Linked DNA regions of Homo sapiens: regions 2 and 3 are each linked to region 1. Evidence: fine-mapped expression QTL. A gene starts in region 1. Each other region holds a variant in brackets. All regions are shown on one strand. Distances are from middle to middle. Region 1 holds the start of ADH5 (alcohol dehydrogenase 5 (class III), chi polypeptide). Region 2 has its middle 22 kb from the start of ADH5. Region 3 overlaps ADH7 (alcohol dehydrogenase 7 (class IV), mu or sigma polypeptide).

What was found. PIP is the estimated chance that this variant, and not a neighbour inherited with it, causes the effect.
Region 2: its variant is the best candidate, but not a certain one, in a credible set for the expression of ADH5 in whole blood (INTERVAL, PIP 0.53).
Region 3: its variant is the best candidate, but not a certain one, in a credible set for the expression of ADH5 in aorta (GTEx, PIP 0.57).

Annotation. Positions count from the first base shown.
Region 1 is chr4:99,087,495-99,090,351 of GRCh38, reverse strand. ADH5 (alcohol dehydrogenase 5 (class III), chi polypeptide) reads left to right here and starts at 1,564. Exons shown (of 9, transcript NM_000671.4): 1 at 1,564-1,663. The coding sequence starts at 1,652. LOC100507053 (a long non-coding RNA gene) reads right to left here and starts at 1,495. Exons shown (of 10, transcript NR_037884.1): 1 at 1,068-1,495. RefSeq lists a silencer at 1,532-1,581 and a promoter at 366-1,619.
Region 2 is chr4:99,064,961-99,067,638 of GRCh38, reverse strand. No RefSeq gene overlaps it. Among named protein-coding and RNA genes, the nearest start is that of ADH5, 22 kb to the left of the region's middle. The variant T/C (reference allele first, on the strand shown) is at 1,298.
Region 3 is chr4:99,413,719-99,416,218 of GRCh38, reverse strand. It overlaps ADH7 (alcohol dehydrogenase 7 (class IV), mu or sigma polypeptide), which reads left to right. Exons shown (of 9, transcript NM_000673.7): 8 at 603-741. Among named protein-coding and RNA genes, the nearest start is that of ADH7, 20 kb to the left of the region's middle. The variant A/G (reference allele first, on the strand shown) is at 1,393.

The sequences.
Region 1 (2,857 bases):
AAGTATTAGATTCAAGGGCCTGGCATCAAAGAAATCAGATGGGAGGCTCTTTCAGTAATCCTGTAAGAAATTATGAAAGCCTGAACTAATACAGCAGCAGTGGGGAGAGAGAGGCACAAGACCAGAGAGATATTTAGGGCTTGGTGACAAACTGAATGCAGGGACCGAGGGAGAGGGAGAAGTTGTGACTCTCATGTTTCTGGCTAGGGTAAGTATGTGGAGAGTGTCAACACACAGAGGAAAGAGTCCCTATAAGGAGAAAATATTAATAGGAGTTTTAGGAGTTGCATTCGATTGTGAGATATCCTAATGGAGACAGAAATCCAGTAGGCAGTTACATGTCCAAGTCTGGAGTTTAGGGGAGCCATCCTGATTGGAGATAATAATCTGGTAGTCATCTTTCCATAAATAGACGTTAAAAGCCAAAGTGTGAGTGAGAGAGTGGAGTGAAAGGACGGAAAGACTTTGGACAATCTTACCATATGTACCCGGAAAAGAGCCAAGAAAAAGACTGAAAGACAGAAAAGAGCAGTGTGTCTGACAGAGCTATTTTAACAAAATTCAGCGTTTACAACAGAGTTTAAGAGTAAACTGGCAGGCCAGGTGCGGTGGCTCATGCCCGTAATCCCAGCACTTTGGGAGGCTGAGGTGGGTGAATCACTTGAGGTTAGGAGTTCAAGACCAGACTGGCATACATGGTGAGACCAACCCCCTGCCCCCACTCCCAATCTCTACTAAAAATACAAAATTGAGCCAGCGTGGTGGCGTGTGCCTGTGATCCCAACTACTCAGGAGGCTGAGGCACGAGAATCACTTGAACCTAGGAGGCGGAGGTTGCAGTGACCCGAGATCGCGCCACTGCACTCCAGCCTGGGCGACAGTGCGAGACTCCGTCTCAAACAAACAAAGAAAGAGTAAACCGACAAATACTACATTCTCTCTCTCTACACTCTGGCCCACTCTTAACACAAAAAACTGTCCAGGATCAGGAGACTTTTTGTTCTCCTCATCTCCTCCTTCCAAAGTTCTCTGCCCACGTTCTACTGTCTCCCCAAAATCCTACCTACCCTTCAGGAACTGCTGGAATGGGAGCTTGGGAAGTTTCAGCAAACTCCTCTCTCCTCCTTTGTGGCCCCTTTATTCCCAAAGCTGTGTCCTCTCCCTATGACGAGTCCCTTGAGGGGCTGTATCTTACTCCTTGTGTCTCCAAGCACACATAATGTGTATTAGGGGAGGAAGCATTCGCCAGTGGAGCACAAAGCTGTTGCAGGTCTCTTACTGGTTCTCAGGCGCTTTCAGTGAAATTCCCGTTCCCTCACCGTCCACATCTGTAATTTGCAAGTCTTATCTACGATAACTGCTGTAAAGTTACACGGGGAAGCCCTTTCCCGACAAAAAAAACGAGTTCTGCAACAAGTCCGTCGGATTTTAGCAATGAAACCGGCGCCGTGCAGCCTCGCCGGCGAGTGCACCCTGGAACGCACAACTTAGCGGCACGCACCACAGCTCGAGCACCGCCCTTCCGGTTGGAGCCATTGCAAGCCCCCCCCACGCCCCGCCCCCCTCGCTAGGCGCTCGCCACGCCCATGCCTCCGTCGCTGCGCGGCCCACCCCGGATGTCAGCCCCCCGCGCCGACCAGAATCCGTGAACATGGCGAACGAGGTAGGGCCCGTTGAGCGGAGGGCCCTGAGTCCAAGGGAGGGAGTGCATGGCATGGGACTAGGCTGCTATCCTCGGGGGCGCGCGAGGCTCGGCGCCCAAGACGGGATCTGGCTCTTGGTTCTGAAACTGGGCCCCCAGCGAGCGGCTCAGAGGGGCAGAAAGAGAAGGAAGCTTTGTCTCGGCTCTTCAGTTGGGAAGCAGCTTTCTTTGCTGCTTCTGGGACAGTCGGAACGGGGTGGGGGGGTGGGAGAGCCGGAGAGTGGGGGGCAGGGGCTGGTCAGGTCGGTATCCCAGTGGAAATGGCTTAGGAGCGGCCACGCATTGCTTCTTACACGAAATTAAGTAACTCGCTCTGGGTCATTCTTGCAGCTTGCATACTTGGCAGAGCTGCAGCCAGATCCCGTGCTTCTAACTCCTAGGTTGCTTGTGTTGCATAATTGAGCCTACGCCTTAATTATTGTGCCTCCAAGGAGTGTATTTTGGAAAGACCCCTACGTCCCTTTCAGAAACATTTTCGAGCACTTAAATACCAAGAGATTTATATTCCCTCTAGTCCTCACGTAACAAACACCTCTGCGAGGTGTTATCCCCATCTTACCAAAAACTGAGGTTTGAGGTTGGTTGTGCTTGGTCACACCAACGATGGCGAGCTGGGATTCCGACCCAGGTCTGCTCCTCTATGACAAATTCATAAAATACAAATTAGACAGTAAAGAAAGGCAGAAATTACGAATAACATACTCAGTCTAAAGTTGCTGATTATTTTAATGTTTTGCAATTTTGGACATTTTCTAGTAAGACAAATGGCCTTAAACATATTGGAGTTTGAAAGAAATAAACTCTAAACAGTCTTTCAGACTTAAACTGGTAGTTGCTTTTCCTTATTACTGAGTGTCTTTATTCAGAGAAGGTGAAAGATTATAATTGTTACTATAGTTCAAATGTTGAAGTAGGGCCATTTCCCGCGGATTTAGAGTGGGGCTTTGTTTTGCTTAGAATTGTCAGTAAAAGGAAAAGGTTAGGCTCCATTAAGACATTTTTTAAAGGGGAGCAGGCCATCAAATTTAGTATTCTTGTTTCTTTGGATTCCTATGTTGCATAACTTAATTGTTAGTATTCTGAATCTGACTTGTGGAGTTGAAATTTATGGCACATTGAAATGAAAAAGGTTCTAATGCAGTGTCTGATTCTTTG
Region 2 (2,678 bases), 23 kb after region 1:
TAATTGCATAGAACTATACCAAGGTAATTGTGTCTTTAAGGAACAACTACCAAGTGAACAAGATGAGCAAAGTCCTCTATTATACAAGATTTCCTTCGGTGGAACATTATGGTGACAAAGCAGCGTAATGGGCTCTTAAGCAGATTGATTTTTATCAAACTGGACATATCAGAATTCCTTATGTATAAGAGAAATATGCACATGCTCCTTTCAAGAAAAGAGTGATAACCCACCATGGAATTACCTCCAGTTTAAACATGTACTCTTGACTGCCAAAAATATCGAGATATGTTAAGCAAGATAAAGCAGCAGAACACGCTTTAAAATATGTTGATCTCTTTCTGTAATCTACATGTTAATATTAAATGTTCTTATCCTTGGCATTGTTTCCTCAGAATCATCCAGGGCTCAAATTCAGATTTAAGTTTAAAAAATTCTATCTGGAATTGTCTGGTGATCTCTGACCCAACTACTGAAACAAAGCAAATCTGCTTCATAGCCAGTCACATTCTGTATAGAATAAAACAGTTGGTAGTTGTCATATCACTGCACAAATAGGAGATTGCCACAGAGAAGTGTGGTGATTTGTTCTCCTAGCCACAGAATCAATTTAAAAATTGTAGAAATTGGCTGGGTGTGGTGGCTTACACCTGTAATCCAAGCACTGTGGGAGGCTGAAGTGGGAGGATCACTTGAGGCCAGGAGTTCAAGACCAGCCTGGGCAACATAGACCCTGTCTCTATAGAAAAATAATAATAATCAGGTGTGTTGGAACATGCTTGTAGTCCTAGTTACGTGGCAAGCTGAGGTGGGAGAACTGCTTGAGCCCAGGAGGTCAAGGCTGCAGTTAGCCATGATCATGCCACTGCCTCCAGCCTGAGGAACAACAACAACAACAACAACAAAAAACTATTAAAATACTGTGAACGACTAACAGCACAATTGTGATAAGTGAAAATTTTTATAGGAAGTCCTTCTTGAGTGCTCCATATTTTAACTTTTTGGAGTATTCTAGTAAAATACCAGTGTTGACCTTTTTTCAAAAATAACCAGAATCACCATATACACAGTTCTATTGTTGCTCACCCACAGTCCCCAAAATGAAAAGCAGCAAACACGTAGCCAGGGCCACCTTATTCCTGCTTCATCTTGCAAAACACCCAAATAAATGCAGACTATTTTTCTTTTTCCTACTTAGCACCAAAAGGAAGATGAGAGAAGGTTGCCATAAGGGCCAGAGTTTCCATACACAGACTGTGTGCTAAGCTAACCTTTCCTTAGGTGTCCATTTTTAAAA[T/C]AGAACAAAACACAACTTTTATAGGTTTTAGCCTAATGCAGCCTATGTTATGAAACAGTTTGTTCCTAAAACATGAATGTCTAAATGTTATGTTCTAACATAAAGGAGTTGGCCCCATCAAAAAGTGGGCGAAGGATATGAACAGACACTTCTCAAGACATTTATGCAGCCAACAGACACATGAAAAAATGCTCATCATCACTGGCCATCAGAGAAATGCAAATCAATACCACAATGAGATACCATCTCACACCAGTTAGAATAGCAATCACTAAAAAGTCAGGAAACAACAGATGCTGGAGAGGATGTCAAGAAATAGGAACACTTTTACACTGTTGGTGGGACTGTAAACTAGTTCAACCATTGTGGAAAACGGTGTGGCAATTCCTCAAGGATCTAGAACTAGAAATACCATTGGACCCAGCCATCCCATTAATGGGTATATACCCAAAGGATTATAAATCATGCTGCTATAAAGACACATGCACACATATGTTTATTGTGGCACTATTCACAATAGCAAAGACTTGGAACCAACCCAAATGTCCATCAGTGATAGACTGGATTAAGAAAATGTGGCACATATACACCATGGAATACTATGCAGCCATAAAAAAGGATGAGTTCATGTCCTTTGTAGGGACATGGATGAAGCTGGAAACCATCATTCTCAGGAAACTATCGCAAGGGCAAAAAACCAAACACCACATGTTCTCACTTACAGGTGGGAATTGAACAATGAGAACACTTGGACACAGGAAGGGGAACATCATACACTGGGGCCTGTCGTGGGGTGGGAGGAGGGGGGAGGGATAGCATTAGGAGATATACCTAATGTAAATGACGAGTTAATGGGTGCAGCACACCAACGTGGCACATGTATACGTAACAAACCTGCACGTTGTGCACATGTACCCTAGAACTTAAAGTATAATAAAAAAAGAAAAAAATAAAAATAAATAAATAAATAAAGGAGTTGGAAAATGAGCGACACTGCCACAAGTGTGGTGTAATTTACAAGTGGTATGATTTGCTCCTCTTGCAGCTGGAAAGCTTGGTAAAAGTTAAACACTATCAAATGTAGACAGAATCTTACTACACTGTCTCAAACAGTTCCAGCATTTCTAACTGCCAGACCACTAATATATCCCTCCCCACCTCTACTGTATTTTTTGCCCCCGAGATTCACTGCATTCATTCTTAAAGTAGCCCATGGTTTATGAAATTCAGAATAAGATCTAAATTACTTCAATGATATGTTCTAAGAAAAAAAGAATCATAAAGAAAGTGTACTTTATTGTTGGCAGTGATTTTAGTGTAGTAATTTTGAAACAATTTTACATCTGTCTGGTAGTATCAAGCAAATATTAATCTCCCAGAT
Region 3 (2,500 bases), 330 kb before region 1:
TATGGGGTGACTGGAAGGAGATGTGGGTATCAGAAGAGTTTTTTTAACCTTTGTTTCTTTTTAATTTAATTTAATTTTTATTTTACTTTAAGTTCTGGGATACATGTGCAGAACGTGCAGGTTCGTTACGTTGGAATACAAGTGCCATGGTGGTTTGCTGCACCCATCAACCCATCATCTAGGTTTTAAGCCCCGCATGCATTAGGTATTTGTCTTAATGCTCTCCCTCCCCTTGCCTGCCACCCACCGACAGGCCCTGGTATGTGTCATTCCCCTCCCTGTGTCCATGTGTTCTCATTGTTCAACTCCCACTTACGAGTGAGAACGTGCGGTGTTTGGTTTTTTGTTCCTGTGTTAGTTTGCTGAGAATGATGGTTTCCAGCTTCATCCATGTCCCTGCAAAGGACATGAACTCATTCTTTTTTATGGCTGCATAACTTTTGTTTCTTATGCTGGGACAAATACAGCTTATTTGTACACTGCTGGGAATGATCTAACACAGGGAAAGTCATAGTGCAGGAAAGAGAAGGAATAAATATAACATAATAAAAGATAAGGATTATTTAGTAATGTCTAAAGAGAAAATGTGTGCTTATTTGCAGGTTTGAAAAGCAGAGATGATGTCCCAAAACTAGTGACTGAGTTCCTGGCAAAGAAATTTGACCTGGACCAGTTGATAACTCATGTTTTACCATTTAAAAAAATCAGTGAAGGATTTGAGCTGCTCAATTCAGGACAAAGGTAACTGTTTCTTATGATGATCTTGTCTCTTCTCCACAGGCTACTTTTAAAATTTAGTACTTATAAATGTGCCTGTTTTCTTCATATTTTATTTCTAATTATTTAATCTAGCCAGATTGATACAGCTAATTACTTCTCTTTACCCACTGCATTAGTGTATTTTCATACTACTATAAAAAAAAAAAACTGCCCGAGACTGGGTCATTTATAAAGCAAACAGATTCAATTGACTCACAGTTCAGCATGGCTGGGGGCTTCAGGAAACTTATAATCATGGTGGAAGGCAAAGAGGAAGCAAGGCACCTTCTTCACAGGCTGCAGGAAGGAGAAGTGTCGAGCAAAGCGGGAAGAGCCCCTTACAAAACCATCAGATCTTGTGAAAACTCACTCACTATCATGAGAACAGCATGAGGGAAACTGCCCCATGATTCAATTACCTCCACCTGGTCTCTCCCTTGACATGTAGGGATTATAGGGATTATAATTCAAGATGAGATTTGGGTGGGGACACAAAGTCTAACCATATCACCAACTTAGTATGCCATTGTACTATATTAATCAATTTTTTAAAATCTTTTGGATTTTGTTTACCTAGTTGATTTCATTGTGGCTATTTTTATTTCATCATAAAGCTGCTATTTATTTCAAGTA[A/G]GCCACAAAATTTCCTTATTTTACAGTTTTCAAAGTGCTTTCTCAAATGTGCATTATTCAGATCCCTGTAAGCCAGGTATTATTTTTACCATTTTTAGATGAAGACCAAGGTTGTGAAAGCAAATAAATAACTGGTCAAACCTCCTGGGGTAGTGCCAGGATATAAACTAATTGCAAAACTTGTGCTCTTTTGACCATATAACAAACTTCTCTGACAGAGCTTGGCAAGCTTTGGGTAAACATGGGTGTGATGATTACTACTCTTGTTGCTTCTGAGGGTTGGGCAAGGATAGAGGTCAAGTATGAATTCATGCAAATTTTATCTACAACATCTACCTCATGGAGGTCTCAAACAGCAATCAAAAAGCCTGTCTACAAGATGAAATGACTTTCACTCATTGGGCCTATAAATAATTATTGAGCTTCCACTATGTGCCAAGGACGTGGATTTCATTAGTAAAAGGAACTGTATATTGAGATCCAAATTTTTACTAATTTTTTTTTTTACCTGAGAGATTTTTCAATGTTGTGTCTTGTCTCCACATTTGGTCTAGCCTACAGGATCATCATATTATGAACATACATTTTTTTAAGCAAGTAAACAATGGGATTTTGTAAGAAAAACTGTCAGAACCACTCAGTACTACTTTACTCAGATAAGCAAAACTAACAGCTTAGTATGGCCTGCTTGGAAAATAATTACTATTTGTTTTCCAAAGAAACATAAATTCTGCTTTCAGGAATTTTGCTTCAAATATCACCTTAAAGCAGGGACATCCAAACTAACATTTGTAAACCTAAACTCTTCAATTTCCACCTACTTCCTGCACAGCTCTATTTGAATGTCCCACTTGGAAATATTTTTTCGCCAGTAATTTTTATCTCAGTCATTATATTATGCGTTCCTCTTTTATAGATGAGAAGCCATAGCATCATGTCTGACTTCTTTTTCACTCTTGCCTACCACATACAAACCAATTCTAAGCCTTGATGATGCAACCCTTGATTTCTCCTTCAGAATCCCTCATCTCATTGCCCACGCTCATTGCTTTAATTCAGTCTAATCATTTCTGACATGGACATGGTAGTGAGATAATAGGTTTTCCAC